Regions from separate parts of the Homo sapiens genome. Here region 2 is linked to region 1. The links come from fine-mapping of genetic effects on gene expression. A gene starts in region 1. The other region holds a variant in brackets. All regions are shown on one strand. Distances are between the middles of the regions. Region 1 holds the start of NTSR1 (neurotensin receptor 1). Region 2 overlaps NTSR1 (neurotensin receptor 1).

Region 1 (2,900 bases):
GGAGTAGACTGTCTCTGTGACATCTCTCCCACTCCCTACCCAGAAGGCACACCACTGGCACTGCTTTTGGGGTGAAGGAGAGGGGAGCCCCGGGGCTGGTTACTGAGGCTCACCTGTATGACGACCTTGACGGTGGCAGTGTGGATGGTGGGGGTGCACACCAGGCCGCCGGCGTGCTGGCCGTCGGCGCTGCGGTTCTGCTCGCCCATGGTGAACAGCATAGGCACCGCCAGCAGGGCCGAGGCGAGCCAGATGGCGCTGATGAACTTCTTGGTGCGGCTTCGGGACATGAGGGTCTTGGCCTTGAAGGGGTGGCAGATGGCCAGGTAGCGCTCCACACTCAGGCTGGCCACGTTGAGGGCCGTGGCGTAGGTGCAGGCGTCGCGCAGGAAGTAGTAGCCGCGGCAGCCGGCGTCGCCGAAGGCCCAGGGGTGGTGCACCCAGATGAAGTTGTACAGCTCCACGGGCATGGCCAGCAGCAGGGTGAGCAGGTCGGACAGCGCCAGGCTGCCCAGGTGGTAATGCACCGTGCTCTGCAGGCTCTGCAGCGACTTCTTCCGCGCCAGCGTGAACGCCGTCACCGTGTTGCCCACCGTGCCCACCACGAAGAGCGCCAGGTACACGGCGGTCACCAGCACCTTGGAGTAGATGTCGGTGTTCACGTCCAGCTCGCTGCTGGGTGCCGCCAGGACGCGCTCCGACGCGTTGCCCGAAGCGTTGCCGAAGCCCGGGGCCAGCAGCGCCTCCTCCAGTCCGGCCTGCGCCCGCTGGAAGGGGTCGGCGGCCGGCGTGCCCGGGGTTCCCGGCGCGGAGCTGTTGAGGCGCATGGTGGGCGCTGGAGTCCGCGGCTCTGTCCGGCGCCTCCGGGGCTGGAAGTCCGGGCAGGAGTGGGCGCGTCTCAGGCGGGGACCGATGAACGGGAGCCCAGGGGAGGGCGCGTGGCGAAGACCAGCGGGCGCGCCGTCCAGTCGGGAAGCGCCAGACCCAGACGCGCCGCCCCGGGCTCCGGGCTCCGGGCTCCGCTCTCCTCCGGACTCCCAGCTTCCGGCTCCTAGCTCCAGAACCCGTGGTTCCTCGGGCTGTCTCCCGGCTCGGCGCTTGCCACGGGTTCCAGGTGCCTCCGATCTCCAAACCGCGCGGTTCCCCAGGCCCCCGAGGACAGCGCCCAGCCCGGCTCGGGCTGCGCGGGGCGAGCTTGTGGCGCCGGGAGGAGCGCACGCACTGCTGCCCGGGCGCGCTCCCCTCCCTCGCTCAGAATCTCCTCCCTCGCGCTCTCCGCGCACCCCAGCCCCGCACACCTCCCGCCGCGCCCGCGCCCTCCCGGCTCTGCGCGTCTCCACGGAGCCGGCGGCCGCGCGGCGCGCCCAGCAGTGGGGGGTGGCGGCGGAGGAGGGAGGCAGCCCCCGCCGCCATCCCCGCCCCGCCCGGGTGCAGCCTGGCGGGTCGCCCCCTCGCGCTCCCCGGGGCAGGGCGGGCTGGGGTGAGCGCTCCAGGGAACCAGGATTCCGAGCGGGCGCGGCGGGTATCGTGCACCAGACCCTTCCTGCCACCCTCTTCCCTGTTCTCCGCAATTTCTCGCACCGGCTAGGAAGGGAACTATGCACCTCCCCCAACCCTGGGCTCGCTCAGTTGGGGTGAGGGTGTATCCGGAGGGCAGGGAGGGAGGAAGCTCCCCGCTGGCAGGGCTGGGCGGCTGCGCAGCTGGTTGGGCCGACCCCCACTCCTGGGTGTCCACAGGGTGCCAGAAGCTGGGTGCCCAGGGGGCTCTAGGACCACTGGAGATTACATTTCTGGTGATTCCTTTTAAAATCTGGCCGCAGTCATGGGCGTGCCTGGTCTGTGAATGCGTATTTCTGGGATGTGCCCAGTGGAAATGGTGGGGGCTCAGGGCATAGTTATCACCTGGGGCAGGATGGCGTGAGGCAGTACCGAGGGACACCTGCAGGGGCTGAGGAGCTGAGGGGCTGGGTCCTGCAGAGGCCGGGAGCCACAGATGGTTTCATCAAAGTCTGGGGAGGGGTGAATGAGGGAGGGCAGAAAGCAGGTGCCCAGAGCAGCACCCTCCCCACTCAGGGCCCTGCATCTGGCACCCTGGGCTGGTCTCATGACGCTATGGGATGTGATGCCCTGGGCCCCTTATTACTGCCTGGATTTGTCATCAGAAGCCACCCTGAGAGCCTGCGCCCCAGCAGGATTTGGGAGAGGCAGCCCCAGCACGCATCCTCCCAGGCCCTGCAGGCTTTGCACACTCCCTCCCTCTGAGTGTCCTCACAGGGTGCCCCGGCCCCTGGCTCGGGAGCCAGGTGAGGGCAAGATTCCTGTCCTTTCCGTGTCCCCCCCAGCACCTGGTGGCACTGGCATAGGTGGCCAGGCACAAGCTTGCCCCCCCCTCCATGTCTGGGTTGCCCAGGGGCCCCCAGGGCACTACTGTCCCTTCTCTGGGCCCTCCCCGCCCCCTCCCCTGCTCCCTCCTCCCCAGAACCCCTGGGAGAGGTTGGGTAGAGCTGCTGCCCCATGTGTGCAGGGCTGGGAGGAGCTGCTCGAGTGCAGCCCAGGGAACCAGCCTGGCCTTTGTGCACATGGCTGGCTGCACCTGCTGTGCTGGGAGCAGGAAACCTGGGCAGGCTGGGGCGGGGGTCGCAGGGTGTTGAGGGAAGCGGGAGGCTGAGGAACCCCCTCCCGGGCCCGCCCAGCTAGGAGAATTCAAGGCTTCTGAGCCGGTGGCTGGCAGCGGGACTCTGTGATTATTCGTCCGTTCTCGCCCTGCTTTGGACTTCTCTGTTCAACCGGAGCCTGATACTCTTGTCAGGGGGCTGCAGCTCACAAACATCAGAGCTTAGAAATCTTGGCATCAAAGGAAACGCCAGTGATCCCTTTGCTGGAAGCCAGTAGATAGGATT
Region 2 (2,900 bases), 23 kb before region 1:
ACACTGCCGATGACATTTACTTCACTCAGAATTTGCAAGTCCAATGCCGACATGAATATGCACGGCACTGCTGCTTGGATACGTGGCCTCAGGGCCACGCCTGCGGGTGATGTGACAAGTCCACAGACTCCCGTGGCGGCTTCTCACCGAGAAACATTCCAGCACCTGGAGGCTGCCAGCTGGGAACCCCCTTTAGGCGACGTCAGCGCCGTTGGTTCTCAGCCTGAGCCGCCCCCTGTGCCCGCTGTGGTCCTCCAGGCCCAGGCAGGGAGAGCCCGAGGAAAAGCAAGCGGAGGGTCAGATGGGGAACCAGCGTGCCTGGAGCCACGCAGGGACACGGACTTAGAATTCTACCTTGCATTTAAGGAACAGATGATAGATACTCTCTACAGTCTCTTCCAGGAAATAGAAGCAGAGGAACACTTTATAACTCACTCTACGAGGCCGGCATTACCCCAATAACAAAACCGAGGATGTTACAAGAAAGGAAAACGCAGACCAGGATGTCTCATGAACACAGATGCAAAAACCCTCAACAAAACAGCAGCAAATCCAGCATCACATACTAAGAATTATACACCACAGGATTTCCCAACCAGCACCACATACTAAGAATTACACAAATAGCAGCGAATCTCATGCAGCGCTACATGGTAAGAATTAGACAGCACAGGATTTATTCCAGGCATGCGAGGCTGCTCCAGGGTTCGGAAACAGATTATCGAAATCCATCATGGCAACAGGAACTATTTTCCAAAACCCAACACCCATCTGTGAGAAAAACCTTTCACAAGCCAGGAATACAAGGGAACTCCCTCAGCTTGGTAGAGAACATCTACTAAAAACCTACAGCCCATGTCATACTCAATGGTGACAAACCTGAAGCTTTTCTTCCTAAGATAGGGAAGGAGGCAGGGAGGCCCCCTATCCTCACTCCTATTTAACGTCATACTGTGAGTTCACAGGATGGACACTACCGATTTCAACACTTGCTATAAAGCCCCAGTTATCGGTACAGTGTAATTTTTTTTTTTTTTTT[G/TTG]AAATGGAGTCTCACTCTGTCGCCCAGGCTGGAGTATGGTGACACAATCTTGGCTCACTGCAGCCTCTGCCTCCTGGGTTCAAGTGATTCTCCTGCCTCAGCCTCTTGAGTACTTGGGATTTCAGGCACCTGCCACCATACCTGGCTAATTTTTGTATTTTTAGTAGAGATGGGGGTTTCACTATATTGGCCAGACTGGCCTCGAACTCCTGACCTCAAGTGATCCACCCGCCTCGGCCTCCCAAAGTGCTGGGATTACAGGCGTGAGCCACCACACCCAGCCAGTAAAGTGTAATCGTGGCTAAAGAACAGACAAATATTCCAATGGAACAGAAAAGAGAGCCCAGAAGTGGACGGACACATGCATGGGCAAATGATCTTTGAGAAAGAAGCAAAAGTTATTGATGTTGAAAAGACTGTCTTTCAACAGATGGTGCTGGAACAACTGACATCCACATGTAGAAAAAAATGGGTCTTATACCTTTCAGGATAATTAACTCAAAAGGCCTCACAGACCTTAATATAAAATGCAAGATAATACAATTTATAGATAATAACACATTTTATTTAATATAAAATACAAGATAATAAAATTTCTAGGTAATAAAATCTAGGTATCTTGGGTATAAAATCTAGGTATCTTGGGTTTGGCAATGAGTTTTTAGATGCAACATCAAAAGCATAATCCACAAAAAAAATGAATAAGCTGGACTTCATTAAAATTAAGAAATTACACGGCTGGGCGTGGTGGCTCACACTTGTAATCCCAGCACTTTTGGAGGCCAAGGCGGGTGGATCACCTGAGGTCAGGAGTTCAAGACCAGCCTGACCAACATGGAGAAACCCCATCTCTACTAAAAATACAAAATTAGCTGGGCATGGTGGTGCACGCCTGTAATCCCAGCTACTCGGGAGGCTGAGGCAGGAGAATCACTTGAACCCGGGAGGCGGAGGTTGTGGTGAGCCGAGATTGTGCCATTACACTCCAGCCTGGGCAACAAGAGCGAAACTCCGTCTCAAAAACAAAAAAGAAAAAACAAAAACAAAACAAAACAAAAACGCTCTAAAAATGACACTGTTAAACGAATGAGAAGACAAGATACAGCCTAGGAAAAAATATTTGCAAAATACTTGATAAAGGAGTGTTATCCAAAATATATAAAGAACTTTTACAACTCAACAATAAGGAAACAAACATGAAGAAATGGGCAAAACATCTGAATAGACACCTCATCAAAGAAGACGTAGCAATGGAAAAATAAGCACAAGAAAAATGCTCCACATCATATGTCATTAGAGAAATGTCGATTAAAACAATGAGATCAAATGAGAATGGCTACAAAAACCAAAACCAAGATCCTGACGACACCAAACGCTGGCAAGGCTGCGGAGCAACAGAACCGCCCTCACCCGTGGCTGCTGGGAATTCAAAATGGCGCAGCCGTGCTGGAAGGCACTTTGGCAACTTCCTACAAAGCTCAACGTATCCTTACCACGTGTTCCAACGATCGCCCTCCTTGGCATTTCTACTCCCAAAGGGGTGAAAGCCACACAGAAACCTGCACATGTATGTTTATAGCAGCCTTCTTCATAAATGCCAAAAACCAAGATGTCCATCAATAGCTGAGTGAATAAACAAGCTGGGGGACATCCAGATAATGGAATATTATTCAGCCGTAAAAAGAACAAGCTATCAAGCCATGAAAAGACAGGGAGAAACCTCAACTACATACTGCGAAGGGAAAGAAGCTGGTCTGAAAAGGCTGCATACGGTATAATCCCAGCTGTGTGACGTTCTGGGTAAGACAAACTGGAAAGACAGTAAGAGGATCAGTGGGTGCCAGGGGTTGTGGGGAGGGAG

Evidence for each region. PIP is the estimated chance that this variant, and not a neighbour inherited with it, causes the effect.
Region 2: its variant is fine-mapped to the expression of NTSR1 in monocytes after R848 (Quach 2016, PIP 0.95). The same link has a PIP of 0.9 or more in monocytes and monocytes after Pam3CSK4.

The regions. Positions count from the first base shown.
Region 1 is chr20:62,707,135-62,710,034 of GRCh38, reverse strand. It overlaps NTSR1 (neurotensin receptor 1), which reads right to left and starts at 1,199. Exons shown (of 4, transcript NM_002531.3): 1 at 114-1,199. The coding sequence starts at 827. RefSeq lists enhancers at 1-452, 453-999, 1,209-1,721, 1,722-2,235.
Region 2 is chr20:62,730,259-62,733,158 of GRCh38, reverse strand. The region is part of intron 1 of NTSR1 (neurotensin receptor 1); the gene reads right to left. It overlaps NTSR1-AS1 (NTSR1 antisense RNA 1), which reads left to right. Exons shown (of 2, transcript NR_199009.1): 2 at 1-2,900. Among named protein-coding and RNA genes, the nearest start is that of NTSR1-AS1, 3.6 kb to the left of the region's middle. The variant G/TTG (reference allele first, on the strand shown) is at 1,040.